Linked DNA regions of Homo sapiens: region 1 is linked to region 2. Evidence: fine-mapped expression QTL. Tissue or cell type: testis. Region 2 holds a variant in brackets; the other region holds the start of a gene. All regions are shown on one strand. Distances are from middle to middle. Region 1 holds the start of LINC00376 (long intergenic non-protein coding RNA 376). Region 2 overlaps LINC00376 (long intergenic non-protein coding RNA 376).

Region 1 (8,452 bases), 87 kb before region 2:
CACTCTCACTGCTCCTCTTCAACATACTACTGGATGTCCTAGCCAGAGCAAGCAGACAAGAGAAAGAAATAAAGGACATTCAAATCAGTAAAGAGAAAGTCAAACTGTCACTGTTTGCTGATAATATGATTGCTTACCTCAAAAAATCCAAAGGCTCCTCCAGAAAGTTCCTAGAACTGATGAAAGAATTCAGCAAAGTTTCTGGATACAAGATAAATGTACCCAATTCAGTAGCTCTTCTATATACAAACAGCAACCAAGCAGAGAATCAAATCAAGAACTCAACCCTGTTTACAATAGCTGCAAAAATAAATAAATAAATAAAATGCTTAGGAATATACCTAACCAAGGAGGCTAAAGACCACTACAAGGAAAACTACAAAATGCTGCTGAAAGAAATCATAGATGACACAAACAAATGGAAACACATCCCATGGTCACGGATGGGTAGAATCAACATTGGGAAAATGACCATACTGCCAAAAGCGTTCTAGAAATTTAATGCGATACCCATCAAAATACCACCATCATTCTTCACAGAATTAGAAAAAAAAAACCCTAAAATTCATATGGAACCAAAATAAAGCCTGCATAGCCAAAGCAAGACTAAGCAAAAAGAACAAATCTGGAGGCATAACACTACCTGATTTCAAACTATACTATAAGGCCATAGTCACCAAAACAACATGGTACTGGTATAAAAATGGGCACACAGACCAATGGGACAGAATAAAGAACCCAGAAATAAACCCAAATACTTATGACCAACTGACCTTGGACAAAGCAAACTAAAACATAAAATGGGAAAAGGACAACTTTTTTCAGCAAATGGTGCTGGGATAATTGGCTAGCCACAGGTAGGAGAATGAAACTGTATCCTCATCTCTCACCTTAAACAAAAATTAGCTCAAGATTGATTAAGGACTTAAATCTAAGACCTGAAACTGTAAAAATTATAGAAGATAATATCAGAAAAATCCTTCTAGACATTGGCTTAGGCAAGGATTTCATGAACAAGAACCCAAAAGCAAATGAAATAAAAACAAATATACATAGTTAGGACTTAATTAAACTAAAGAGCTTTTGCATAGCAAAAGAAACAGTCAGTAGAGTAAACAGACAACACACAGAGTGGGTCTTCATAATCTGTACATCTGAAAAAGGACTAATATCAAAAATCTACAATGAACTCAAACAAATCAGTAAGAAAAAAGCAAACAATCCCATTAAAAAGTAGGCTAAGGACATGACTGGACAATTCTGAAAAGAAGATATACAAATGGCCAACAAACATATGAAAAGTGCTCAACATCACTAATGATCAGGGAAATGCAAATCAAAACCACAATATGATACCACCTTACTCCTGGAAGAACAGCCACAATCAAAAAATCAAAAACAGTAGATGCTGGCTTGGATGCAGTGATCAGGGAACACTTCTACACTGCTGGTGGGAATGTAAACTAGTACAGCCACTATGGAAAACAGTGTGGGGATTCCTTAAAGAACTAAAAGTAGAACTACCATTTGATTCAGCAATCTCACTACTGTGTATCTATACAAAGGAAAATAAGTTATTAAAGAAATTTGCACATGCTTGTTTATAGCAGCACAATTTGCAGTTGAAAAATTGTGTAACCAACCCAAATGCCCATCAATCAATGACTGATCAATGAGTGGATAGAGAATCTGTGAGATACATACATATATATATATATATATATATATATTCAATACTGCTCAGCCATAAAAAGGAATGAATTAACGGCATTTGCAACAACCTGGATGAAATTGGAAACTATTATTCTAAGTGAAGTAACTCAGGAATGGAAAACCAAACACTGTATGTTCTCACTGATATGTGGGAGCTAAGCTCTGAGGACAAAAAGGCATAAGAATGATACAATGGACTCTGGGGACTTGAGGGGAAGGGTGGGAAGGGTGAGAAGGGGGCCAGGGATAAAATACTACAAACAGGGTGCAGTGTACACTGCTCAGGTGATGGGTGCACCAAAATCTCACAAATCACCACTAAAGAACTTACTCATGTAACCAAATACCACCTGTACCCCAATAACTGATAAGAAAAAAAATGAGGTAGGTGAATTATTTGAGCCCAAGAGTTTGAGGCTGTATTGAGCTATAATCACACCACTGCACTCCTGCCTAAATGACTGAGAGACCCTTCTCTAAAAAAAAAAAAAAAAAAAAAGAAAAGATATTATATTTTGAGACAATAGTTAGATAAATTCTAAATAAATAAATAAATAAAAATGAAAGGAATCCAGCATGCTAATGAGAGTGGTTTGGCTTAAATTGAAATATAAACATTGTTCATCATAATAACAAAGGTTGATCTTATATGTGTTCAAAAGAAAGTAGTTTTGTAAATTTGGTGGCAGAGGATGAGTGAATTGTCTTTACGGTGCTTCCATTTTCTTAGAGAAATAAAAACAAAGTCAACAGTTGAGAAAAGAAGAGTCAGTGTTATAGATTGGCAATAAGAGAATTTGTAAATTAATGTATTGCTAGAGTAGGAGGACAATTGACTAAAAGCAGTAATAGGATGCTGGTGAATGCTGAGATTTCACTTGAATCCTTCAGTCATAAATTTAAAGTAAGATCAGTAAACAAAGTTATGCACTTCTCTTCAGCTCTGTGTCGCTGCTTCAGTATAGACATAAAGATCTCAAAAAGCCAGTTTTCATCAGAGTTAGGATTTTCTAGTAAGTAGGATGAGGCAAAGAGGAAGAAAACTAGGTATGCGTAAAAGAGTCTTACTTAGAGCAATGTGTTATAATATATCTAATTTCAATTGAAAAGGAAATTAACAATACTGTATTGTGTGTATGTTTTTAAGATGGTAGATCTTATGTTAAGTGTTCTTATTGAAAAAAATAAAAATAAAAATAATTTAGGACATGAGAACTTCGACAAAGGATTGAGTGAGTTTGAAAGAAAATTGGGGAAGTCGAACAAAATTGATTAACTACAGGTACAGGATATATAAAAAATTAACTAGAGATATAGGCTATAGTTCTAAAATACAGTGTCATATATTAAGTTCATCCATTGTGCTAGTCAGTGTTCTCTAGAGAAATAGAACCTATAGCATACACACACACAAACATATAACATAGAGGTGTGTCTGAACATATATATATATGTATGTATACATAGATGTATAAAATATGTATGTATTTATTTACTTATGTCACTATATACTATATACCAGCTTGTAGATGGTAGAGAATGGGATATCTAACCTTCCACAATCACTTGAGCATATATTTATTTATTTATTATAAGGTATTTATTTTAAGGTATTTGCTTATGTAATTATGAAAGCTGAAAAGTCCCATGATGTACCTTCTGCAAGATGAAGATCCAGGAAAGCTGGAGGTGTAGTGTAAAGGGCTAATGATGTAAATTCCAGTCCAGGTCTGAAGACCTGAGAACTAAGTATGCCTAGCACAGGAAAAGATCAATGTTCCAGTTCATGTTGTCAAGCAGAGAAAGGGAGAATTCCCCCTTCCCCTATCTTTTTGCTCTATTCAGGAATTCAATGTATTGGATGGTGTCTACCCACATAAGTGAGTACGATGTACTGTACTCAGTCTAATTCAAATACTACCTCCTCTGGAAACACCCTCACAGACACACCCAGAAATAACATTTAACTAAATGTCTGTGCATCTTGTGAGCCCATCAGTTTGACACATAAAATTAACTATTACAATCATCAACCAATAAATAATTCTTGAGTATGTAACAGGTGTCAAACACTATATCATATTTGGAAATACAGTTTTGAACAAGCAGAAGGGTAAGTGTCCTGGCCTAATGAAGGTTATATATTATTTGGCTAGAAAATACAATAAACATGACAAATAATAATTATCTTTTGCTATGTTAAAAATAAAAAGACCATTTATGTCTTAAAACAAACAAGAAGCCAGAATATATTTTTCTCTTTTAGGTATCTGTGGAATGTCTAGGCTCTGAAGAGCAGTTCTTACTTGGAATTTCTCTCACTGCTGCATTTTGTTGTTTGCTGAGTCTGAAGTAGACATTTGAAAGCTTAATTAGGCTGGATATCCAAGAGAGTTCATTTATGTGTGTATTAGTCCATTCTTGCATTGCTATAAAGAAATGCCTGAGACTGGGTAATTTATAAAGAAAGGAGGATTAATTGGCTCACAATTCTGCAGGCTGTATAGGAAACATAATGCTGGCATCTGCTTGATTTCCGGGAAGGCCTCAGGAAATTTTCAATTGTGGCAGAAGGGATAGGGGAAGCAGGAATGTCTTACATGGTGGGAGCAGGAGAAAGAGAGAGAGGAGAGAAGTGCTACACACTTAAAAACAACCAGGTATCATGATAACTCACTCACTATCATGAGTATAGCACTGAGGGTATGTCACTAAACCATTCTTGAGAACTCGGCCCCCATGATTCAATCACCTCCCACCAGGCCCCACCTCCAACACTGAGGACTACAATTCAACATAAAATTTGGGTGGAGTCACAGATTCAAAACCTATCAGTGTCTGGCAGTAAATGTTGGATGTCATTTGAGAGCTCAGCTGAACCTTGGATTGGTGCAAATATTAAAAGCAATGGCAAGAACGACAGTTACTTTTGCACTAACCTAATATATTTAACCATTCCATGTGACTTGAGCATCACATAGCATGGTGCTTGCATTTTAAAAGGGAGAGTTCCAAGAACAAGAATTCTAAGAGAATTGTGTGGAGGCTACAAGACATCTTATGACATAGTCATAGAATTCTCAGAATATGGCTTCTCCTGCATTCTATAGTTCAAGCAGTCACTTGAATGCCAGTTTAGATTCAAGAGGAGAACAATTAGACTCCACCAATGTCAGACTGCTAAAATGTAAAAGTGAGATTGTGCCATCTTTGGAAAATACGATTGGTCACAGATTGTATATTAGAAGTTGATAAGCATAAATGGGTGGTGGGAGGATAAATTAGGAATGATGAAAAGAAAGAATCTCAGGAGATGTAATTTTAAATAGGGAGGTCAGGGTAGAGCTCATTGAAAATGCAAAATATTAGTGACAATCTTGTAGTAAAGTACTGCTCAGCACATAATTTGCATGTCCTTCAACATTGCCTCAACACCTTGCCACAAAATAAATTGAAGTCACATTTTCACTTTCAATCTTTGGCAGCTGTATATAGATATTAGTTCATCACTAAAACACCACACATTAGTATCTTGAAATCAATGTGGCTATAGTGAAGTAAGTGAAAAGAGTAAAATAACACAATGATGTCAGAGTCGTAACTGATGTTCTATTCAGTTAGAGTCCTTTAGGCATTACATGACTTTAGCTTTTTTTTTCTTTGAGTTAACTGTGTTTTGAACACAACCGACATCATATTCTAACTTGCCTTATGTTTAAATTGGAATATAGCTGCTCTTGACAATGATCAATGATCAAAAGTGGACAGGATATAACTAGGAAAACCAGTTAAGAAGCGATTGGAATAAAACAGTAGATAAGAGTGGCATGTACGAAGGTGCTATAAAGAGAAGCGATGAGAGGTAGTAATATTATGAACGTATTTTGACAGAATGGCCATCAGGATTTTCTAGGGCAGCATAATTATTCTGCGAGTAGGTAAAGGAGTTTTGATTGAGATGAAGAGGTCATAGAAGTGAGAAGCACTGAAAGACACAGAGTAAGTAGATATAAATCTCTAGAGATAGAGGTGATACCTAAATCTGTCTGCTTAGTATCATTTTTAACTTTATATTAATGGTGATACAATATTATATATGTGATACTATGTCTAATTTTACCAAAATTTCTTATCTAACTAAAAATATTGTGGAATTGGCTGTTTTTCAAAAGTGATGAAAATCTCTGCATTAGTTTCTCACATTTTCCTACAATTTCACACTATATAACCTCTTCGAGGATATGATTACATTGAAAGTGCAGTCCCATAGGAAATGAGTTTTAAGTTCTGATTAACTTTCCCGACAGATTTTTTTTGATGCAATTAACAATGACTTCACTAACCCACTCCTTCTTTATTACACATAAGTTCAATTATTTTAAAAACTCAGAGGAATCAAAACATACATACTACTTAATTGCCAGTAAATTTGGCCAACAATTAGAATGAAATGTAAGGTGCTTAACATGTCAGCTGTGTATACACTCTGAAAACACTAATATATTCCTAAAGAAAAATTAAAAAGTTGGAAGAGGCATTCATAAAAGAGAAGCATTTCCAGGTGGCTGTAGATTTGTTTGGTTAGGTGGCTTGTAGTTATATAGCTGTTTGTTTAACAGTTCATTATCACCGTCAAGAGGAGTCAGAGGATGCAATGTAAGAAATGTAGTTAGAGAAGATAATATGACAAATTTCTTTTCTGTTCCATCCACTATTTATGCCATAATAAACTATAAATATGCTGGGTTTTGGTGCATTTGATTACCATTATACTTCATTATCTTCATTTACCTTTAAATGGACATTTAATTCATTTCTACGTTGAGATATTATAATCAACATATTAATACATAAGTATATTTTTATGGATATAGACTATGATTTCTATGAAATGCTGGCTGAACCAAGTTGTATGTCACTGTAGATTTTGGATACTGAGCAATTTTCCTCCAAAAAAAATAAAGTAACTATCAATAGCAGTTTTTCTAGCAATGTAGGAAAATTAACCTCTTTTTATAGCACAGCCAACTTAAATATTGCAACTTTTCAGATTTCTATCTTATTTTAAATTATGTTTATTTTTAAATTTTAACCTAGTTGGCTTGAGAATTTATTCACAAATATATTGATTATTTGAAACTTTGATTGAAGGTTTTAACTTTTTAACCATTTTTATTTAGATTTATTTTCAATTACATTTTAATAGCTATTGATATTAATATATGTACTAGAATATTTGAGGATGAATTTTATCTTAAAAAAAGGAAGAAGGCCAGTGTGACAGGAACAAATAGAGAGAGAGAGAGAGAGAGAGAGAGAGAGAGAGACATTAAGCTGAAAGACAGAGGTCATTTAAAGTGGTGCCCTTATTTGCCACAAGATAAAAGTGAGGCTATTGAAAGAAATTAAGCATAGAAGAAAAATAATCAGATTTGCATTTTGCAAAGATTTTTCTGGGTTACTCTCTAAATAATAGATTAGAGGAGTTGGTCTTGTGTATGCACAGTTAATCATCTATTGCAGTAGTCTGGGAGATAGAAGTTGGTAGCTTAAACTAGCTTATGGAGGTGGTAATAAAGATAATTAAATGGATTTTAGGGATGCTTACAAAGCAGATTACCATGTTATGCTGTTCTATTGTAAAATAAATGTGAGAAGTAGAGGTGTTTCTCCATTTTTAACTTGTGGACCTGGATGCATGATAGTGACTTTTCAAATGTAGTAACTCAGAAAAAACTAGTGTGACCGTAACTGAGACTTGGAAAAAGATAAATGTTATTAAATTTTAAAAATTTATTAAAAATTTCCTCTTATTCACCCTTTAAATTTATGTCCTATGTGTTATTTCAGGTGGGGTCACTCTCTCAGTTTTTTTTTAAGGGTTAGTACTTCATCGTAATCCTCAGGGGATACTTTCCAATACCCCCAATGGATGCCGGAAACCACAGATAGCAGCAAACCCTATGTATGCTATGTGTTTTCCTATACAAACATATCTATGATAAAGTTTAACTTATAATTAGGTGCAGTAAGAAATTAAAAACAATAATATTAAATAATAAAATAAAATTATAAAAATATACTGTAACAAAAGTTATGTGAATGTAGTCTCTTTCTCTCTGCTCTCAAAATATCTTATTGTACTGTACTGCAATTAACTGAAATCATGGGAAGCCAAATTGCAGATTAGGGGGTAATTCTGTAGTCTTTGCATTTAAATTTTATAAATTTTCTTTATTAATGTTATCTGCCATTTTACTTAGGTTTATGATTTTGTAACTGGCTATATTCATCATTACATAATGCAAGGATTCTAATTTTGAAGTGACAAAGTTTCATCTTATCCAAATATACTCCCATTTTGAATTAGGTTAATAAATGTGGAAATTCAGAGTTTCTTCTAACTAATACTTAATCTTATTCCTTCTTAGTACCCACCTTCTTTTGAAAATGTTTCTTATAGAGAATCAGTTAGTGTCCTGGGAAATTGCTATTGATTAATAATTTGTGCTGTTAGGTGGCAAACAAAGCGATGGACCTGACAGCCAAAAATATACAGTCATTATACCTGAGAGAAAGGGAAGTTCTCTCCATAGTAACAAAACTCTGGAAGTCTTTGCTTCCAAGCTTTCACAAAACATAGATCTTTGAATACAGCTGTAAAACAAATGGTTTACATATACAAACTGCCTCAATTTTAGGTACCTTAAAATAAAAACTTATACTACTTAGACTAAAC
Region 2 (8,452 bases):
CAAGTGCATGTATGCAGGATAAAGAGAGATCTTCAGTCTATGACATCCTTCTTCAACAAAATCTTGTGTTATATAGCTAAATTGTCGATGCTAGTTAGATATAGTTCTGAAACCTAGCCTGGCCCTTAGCTGTACAAACTTATTGCCTAATTAATAAAATAATATTATCTCAAAATGTAGAAATGAGGTATAAGCTTTAAATATCAAGTGACTAGTCAAGTGTCTGTTATACTGAAGGTAGATACAATATATTGTTTCTTTCATATAAGTGTCATTTGGCTACAAATCTGTTTATATAATTTAATAAATCCTAGACAAATAGGAAAGAATCTAAAACAATATGCTTTATGATATATACAAATTTATTTTTAAATCCTATAAAACAATTATTTCAAACAGAGTAAACTGGAAATCTTCCCATTGCTTCAGGAAGGTCTGATGCAGACCGTAATGCAATGTGAGTATATTTAACATTTTCTAAGTAAAGAAAGAATCCAAACCACACAAAGAAAATTGTCAATGGAAAGAAAGCAGAGCTGAAGGCCAAAGGAAGAATAACTAAGAATACAGATTGAATAGAGAGGTTCCTTTTCTCTCTTAATATTTCCATACACCAGGTAAAACAAAACATAACATGTTCTGAAAATAACAAAACAGGCTATGATGGTCTAAACCCCAAATGCAGTTGGCAATGATAATATTAAAAAGAAAACAGAAGATCTTCTTTAAGGGTTATCGCAATAAAAATCAAACTACTTTTATCAGAAAATCATGAAAAGCACCTAAATTATTAGTGAAACACCAAGGCATTTTCATTAAAGTCAAACCAAAAAAGAAGTATAAGAGTTGTTAAAAAAAAATAAAGATACCAATTGCATAAATAATTTGGGAAAAGCAAGATAATATATTATTGTATTGATAGAGTAAGTTAGTAAATTAGTTGGTTTGCTTTAAACAAGGTCAACATAAAAATATCAAAATATTTCCAGGACAGTAATAACCAATCATCAATGTAATGATCAAAAAGTTCATTGAAATAAGAGCAAAACATAAATCACAATGTAGAATGGTATTTGTAAGGCTTAACAATAAATGATAATCTCAAAATTTTAAAATATTGCCATATCTTTGTTTGGAAAAGTTGTAATTACTTTATTTTTTATTTTTCTCCTTGCTAATTTCTTTAATCACCATTCAAAGTTTGTTGGTTACATGTTTTTTTTTTTATTTTCTAGGAATAGAACAATTATATATTTTACCATTTTTCTATTATTTTTTGTCTTTTTTTCTCATTAATTTCCCTTACACTGATGATAAATTTTTTGCCCAGAAGGCTTTGTCCATTTGAGGTAACTACTTTAAATGAGATTGAATAATTTAATTACTTTCTCATTATGCTTATTCTTGACATGAAATTAAATCCAAATAATTTTTGCCTCAATAAAATCCAATTTTTAAAAAATATGATTGGAATTAGGAAGATCAATTATGTTACAAAAATGGGCATGCCTACATAACAAAATGTTAAAATTAGAAATGTAATTGTGGTAGAATTGTGAAATAAGAACACCTTGTTGAACAATACAGTGGATGCCATTTATATAGTGGACCAACAATGTTTCTGCTGGAATTGTGGAATAAACAGACACTCTTACAGATGACAATGTCTGTGGTATCTCCTGGCATAACACTTTCATGAGCTCACATTGCGTATTATATTTGATTTGCTAAACATTAGTTATAAAAATTATTGCTCCGTTCAAATTTTATATTTTATTTTCTGAAGTATACATTTATTTCCTATAAATATAAATTTGTTTGCAAGTATTTGAGAAGTCCCAAATTCATTACACATATTTGTTACAAGTAAAATCTAAATGAGACTGTTTTTTCAAATGTAATGTATTCCATTTAACACAAAATTGGCAGATATTGTTTTCAACTGAATTATGTGTTAAATATTCATCTACACAAGATTCAATATAATCACTTTAATTTAAAAAAAATTGGTTCCCTGCTATATTATTTTCAACGTGTAAAAGATTATTTATAGAAGTGTTTTAACAGCAAGGTACCGGCCGGGCATGGTGGCTCATGCCTGTAATCCCAACACTTTGGGAGGTTGAGGCGGGTGGATCACCAGAGGTCGGAAGTTCGAGATCAGCCTGGCTAACATGGTGAAACCCCTTCTCTACTAAATATAAAAAATTAGCTGGGTGTGGTGACACATGCCTATAATCCCAGCTACTCAGGAGGTTGAGGCAGGAGAATCGCTTGAACATGTGAGGCGGAGGTTGCAGTGGGCCAGGATCAAGCCACTGCACTCCAGCCTGGGCGACAGAGCGAGACTCGGTCTCAAAAAACAAACAAAAACAGCAAGGTGCCATAAAATTTTTATGGAGGTAACAGAATTGAAGAATATTCTATGATTTCTGTCTTTATCTATGCCCACAATATTAATAAAAGGTGTATCTCTTAATAATTAATCAACACAGCAATGGTTGCATTTAGTAACCCGAAGTTTAGTATTTTAGGATTATCACTTTACATGTGTAATTTTATGGCGTATTACCCGTAAGATATTAAAAATGAATGGATTCTGCATTGAACCACAGTATAAGAATTTATTAGGCACCTCATTTTGACATGGGTTATATTTTAAAGCTGTGTTAATATTTTCTATATTGGCAATCACAAATTATAACTTAGAAATATATTTAAGTTCTAACAAATATATAAAGTTTAACAAGACTCAGCTTGTAGTTCTTAATTATAGATTATATCTTTTTTTATATTGTGGCTATATTTGTTTTAATTAATTTTAATTAATTGACCTGCGTTAATACTTGTTTGAAAATAAGTTCACAATGCCTATGATGTTTTGTGATTGTTTTTAGCCTTTTGACTGGTTTGTTTTAACTTAACTTTTTAAAAGTACATACGTTTTATTTTTAAAAGAGCCTTTAAATATAAATTATTTTGGCACATTTACATCTATCAATATGGCATACATTTAGTTTTAGATATAATATATTTTATGTTATGAATTCTAAATTTGTTGGTTTTTTCAAATTATGTATAGATATTATAATAATATTTGTAAAAAGCAACAAATTTAGAAATTGAAAAAGGGTGTGCTTTTATTCCAGTCTTTATAAATAGAATTTTTTGTGTGTGAGGAATAAGTATTAAAACCTGATTATATAAAACTGTCTCTTCTGGATTCTGAAACTTGAGCTATAAACAAAACAGACAAATCTTGTGCTGTCATGGAGACAATAAACCATTATACAAATTCATATTCATTCATATGCATATCTTTTTTTAAGGAATGACATTTTATTTCAAAAGTATCATGGCATCAAATGAAATAGATATGAATAATGGAGAAAACTACATTCTTTTTATTTATTTTACATTTTATTTATTTTTTTAATCCTTGTTTTTTACACCCAGAGGTAAAATTACTGGGTAATATGGTAATTCTATATTTAATTTTTTTGAAAAACCACCATAGTATTTTCCATAGAGGCTGCATCATTTTACATTGCTACTAGCAATACAAATGCTTTTTAAAAAATAGATAATAGCCACCCTATTTGGGTGTTTAATTATATCCCATGATGTTTTCTTTTAGGTAAACTTTATTTTTTTAAAGTAGTTTTAGGTTAACAGCTAAATTGAACAGAAAGTGCAGAGAATTTTCATACACTCCCTGTATCCTCAAATGCACAGCCTCCCCATTATCAACATCCCCCACCAGAGTAGTATATTTGTTATAATGGATAAGCCTGCATTGACACATCATTATAACCCAGAGTCTGTAGTTTATATTAAGGTTCACTCTTGGTGTTGTACATTGTGTGTTTTAATGAATGTATAATGACATGCATCTACCATTATAGTATGAAATAGTTTCACTGCCCTAAAATCTCCTCTCTGTGTGGAATAATAGACATGGGACACTCCAAAGGGTGGAGTGATGAGTGGGGTGAAGAATGAGAAATTGCCTGTTTGGTATACTAAACACTATTCAGGTGATGGTTACACTAAAAGCTCAGACTTCACCACTACACAAAATATGCATGTAACCATAACGCACTTGTATTCTGTAAATCTATAAAAGAAATCTTCTGTGCTCCGCATACTCATCTCTTTCTCCCCCATAACCCCCTGTAACCTCTGATGTTTTTACTGTCTCCATAGTTGTCTAAGAGAGAGACTCTCTT[G/C]CTCCACATCCTTGCCACTATTTTATGTTGTCATTGTTCTGGATTTTAACTATTCCAATAGGGATGTAGTAGTATCTTGTTTTAATTTGCATTTCCCTGATGGCATATGATAATGAGCATCTTTTACAGGCTTATTTGTCATCTTTATATCTTCTTTGTAAAGTGTCTATTGAGGTCTTTGGCCCATTTTTTAATAAGGTTGTTTATTTTCCCATTGTTGAGTTATCATAAGCCTACCAAAATTTCCCTGTTGAGAGAAGGTGGTAGGTTGTTTTAATTACAACTGTTAAAATTTTATTTATTTTAGCTTGAGGATATTGAAATGTATTATTAAACTGATTATTATGGAATTAAAATGAAATACTGATAATAGGAAGAAGTAAAGCTCTTGGGCAGGTGAGAGGAAAAAAGAAACAATGAATGAAGTAAGGAAGCAGAAGACATAGCATGTAGGTACAGATATCAGAGACTTAAAAATTCAGTAGTGAGAAAGGATCAGGTTAATTATGAGTAGCTTTGTTCTTTTAGTCTCATTCAACACCCAACTGGAATAGAAAATAATAAAGGAAACAATAGAGAATCAAAATGGGCAAACCTCTCACATCAATATGGGGATGACCCCAGTGGCAGCAGATGCATATTTCTGTTATCCCTTTCTCACCCCTGGAAGTATTTTCAGATGCTGAAAGACAAGGACTTCTGCAGGATGAGTTAACCCAGGGATGCTACTAGGTTTTAGTGTCTCTCAGCTTATACACTTCACTAGTCAGGTGTATGTAGTGCATAAGTTACAAGTTTATTTACAATAAACAACTTCAAGGGACCAGGCATATCATTTAAAATCATTCCTAGATCAGTAATCAGTAAAGTGCCCATGAGGCACTCAATTATCTTTCAATTACTAAGTTTCATTGGTCAATATTTACAAGGAATTCTAGTTAAGATAAAAACCACCTCAGCTGTAGCCAAGTCATCAAATACCTTACCTGCCTACCACTTCTCCATCCCATCCCAGTGTACACTCTGACCCGGAGCAGTATCACTTTGCCTCATGTACCTTAATCATCTTAAGACAATAACTGCATCATTTCATACTATGCAGGACACTGTTTACCATTCCTGTATTAAGACAATTACTGCTTTATTTTATAGAATGCAGGACACTTTTTACCATGTTGATGATCACGAGGATTTGTATCACGTGAGGAAAAGCAAAAACTTATTCTAAAAAACAAAAATAAATGAACTATGAACTTCTCACTTTACAAGTCCATTGATCATATTTTACCATTTGGAATATTATTTTTCCTCGTGTGTTAACAAGTACATTTTTACGTGTATTGATGGAGGCATTGTATTGCATCCTAATTTTACTAAGGTCAGGTCACACTGACCTCTTTTTCTGACTAATCCAGTTACCCAGGTATGGTATCAATTAGAGGCTTCAATTCAGTTTTTCCAAATACTTTCGTATCCTGTGGTTTATCATCTCCATTTAATTTTGCTAATAATACTATAAAACTTTTTATACTGCATAGCTATAGAAGGAAGTTTAGATAAATAGATTAATATCTAACATACCAAATGGTTAAAATTAGAGTACAATTTTTATTCATATCTAATAGAAATACTTTTAACCATTAACTACACATTTACAGTGTCTGGGATAGTAACAGAAAGGTATTGTTTAGTACATTGTAGTTTGAATCTGGGTGATGGATATAACTATATTCTAGATATTATAATCCAGATTCTCACCAATACAAACTTTCAGATATTATTTTGAAATACTGCCCATCCATCTCACCTGGGAATACAACTCTGTTGGCCCACTTTTAACTGGTTGAAATTAACTGGTTAAAATTATCTTTTAAACCATTATGTTCCAGCCATTGAAAACAATAATAAAAGCCACACTACCATAGTGTAATTTTACCAGTAATATTTCTACAAATTATTCTTATTTCACTACACTCTGGCTCAGTTGCTATAATGTCTAGTCACTGACCTTTAAAACTTCAGATTCTATAGTGATATAGATATCTCTAATAGAATTTGAGGGTACAAACCCTTTCTTTGGTTTGTTGAAAAGTTGTGTTGTTGACAGAGATGTTTCTTCAGTGAAGTAGTGCATTCAGTCCACACATGAATTCTTTTATTTTCTTATCAAACTGCCAGCCTTGGCAAGCCTCCTTGAAGAGCTCCCCTTATAATACCCCTATTTCCATTAGAAAATGCCTGGACTATGTACTCCAAGTCCAATCCATAAGGTTCTCATTATTTGTGTGTCAGTAAAGACTAGGGATGTCCAATTTTCTACATATGTTGTTGCCATCAGATGCCCATGCAGGTGTGTAGTTTGAGTAAGCAATAAACTCCCTGAAATATGAAGCATGTGGTTCCACAAGTGGCTGTCAGTTGGCTATATATTATTTCTAATAATTTGCATCTGGGAATGTCAGAAGGCTTCTTACAGTGGCCCTTTGGAAGAAACAAGGACCATTACAAGCAAAATGCCACCAAAATAGCACCACTCTCTTCATGCCATCCGAGTTCTTCTTTCTCTAAATTTCTGCTGTTCACATTTGCTTTTATCGTATTTGTTACCAAAACTCCAAGGGTTTGATCTAGGACCTGCTGCTTGATGTACAAAAAGCAATGACTAAGACAATGAGTTTTGCCAGGGAAGAAGGCTTTATTTGAGTGCTACAGCCAAGGAGCTGGGAGATCAGCCTCAAACCTGTCTCCTTGTCTAACTAAAATTAGGGGTTTATATAGCAGAGAAGAAATGTAATCATGTGTGGGAAAACAGGAATTAGGGAAAAGAAAGGAAAAGGAATTGGTCAACAGGAAGCAGGAGTTAGATAGGCAGTTATGACAAGTGAGCGGTCTGGCATCTCATTGTCTAAATGTAGTGATCCAGTAAGTTTCAGCTGCTTGATGCTATCTGGGAGGACTTATAGTTGGTTTCCTGACAAAGAAACTTACATGAAACGAATATAACTTTTTCAAGTTTTAAGACTGGGAGGATCAATTTCTATGTTTATTCAAAGAAACCACGAACATCGGTTGTGTGGAACAACTGGACCTGTTTCATATTCAGAAGAGCAGAGTAGGCTCTGCCCTACTGCTCAGGTGGCAACAGCGTGATTTGAGCTCTACTCAGGGAGCTGTCACAGCGAAGTCTCATCATGCTTCGCAGACATACAGAATGTAGACACTTGCCTCTCCAGTATCTTCCATTCTGACAGATATAAAGATAGTATCTTTCTCAAGATCTCTGAAAAATAACCATACTACGAAACATATTTCTCAAACTGTAAGATGAGTACAAAGACAATTTCTATTCTCGCATTCCATCTGCCACGAGAATCATGTTTTCTAAAGTCTACACTCAAAAGTTTCTTTGTTTTAGGGTTGATGACTTCAGATACGTGCATTACACTTTCTCTGCTGAACTATTATCAAGTGAATTTCTCATGGCTTCTAACTTAGGACAGAACTTTAGAAATAAATGACTGTTTAGTTTAGAGTTGTACTCATTTTCTATTGCTGTTCTAACAAATTACCACCAACTTCAGGGCTTAAAACAACACTTAAAAAATATATAGTTCTGGAGGTTAGACGTCTGAAATATGCCTCATGGGGATAAAATCATGGTGTTGGTAGGGCTGTACTACATTAGGAGGCTCTTGTCTTTCTTAGCTTCTAGTGGCCAACTTCATTCCCTGAGTTGTGATCCCTCTATCTTCAAACTCAGCAATAGCATCTCTCCAAACTTTGCGTCAGCCATCACGTCTCCTTGTCAGGCTTTGACTCTTCTGTCTCCCACTCACAAGAAACACTGATTACACCTGGCCTCATTACAAGATCCTCATTTAAAGGCTCATTAAAAGATCCTCATTTAAAGATCTGAGAAAGAAAAAACACAAAATGCTCTTTATTTTACAATTTAAAAATTTACCTTCACTTCTTATTCTTATACATTTTAGAACTTCTGTAGAGTAACAGAAAATGAAAATGTCTTTACATGATGTTAATATTTTTGTTTATTTTTGACTCTTTACATTTTGTAAAGCCAATATAAAATGTGTTCTCATGATGTGTCCAGAATTGGTTCTTTCCGTTGGGTTCTTGGTCTCGCTGACTTCAAGAATGAAGCCACAGACCCTCGCGGTGAGTGTTACAGTTCTTAAAAATGGTGTTTCCGGAGTTTGTTTCTT

Evidence for each region.
Region 1: it holds the start of LINC00376, and the variant in region 2 is fine-mapped to the expression of LINC00376 in testis (GTEx, PIP 0.96).

Annotation. Positions count from the first base shown.
Region 1 is chr13:63,324,508-63,332,959 of GRCh38, reverse strand. LINC00376 (long intergenic non-protein coding RNA 376) reads left to right here and starts at 4,866. Exons shown (of 7, transcript NR_126409.1): 1 at 4,866-4,906; 2 at 5,605-5,712.
Region 2 is chr13:63,237,261-63,245,712 of GRCh38, reverse strand. All of the region lies in intron 3 of LINC00376 (long intergenic non-protein coding RNA 376), which reads left to right. Among named protein-coding and RNA genes, the nearest start is that of LINC00376, 87 kb to the left of the region's middle. The variant G/C (reference allele first, on the strand shown) is at 4,230.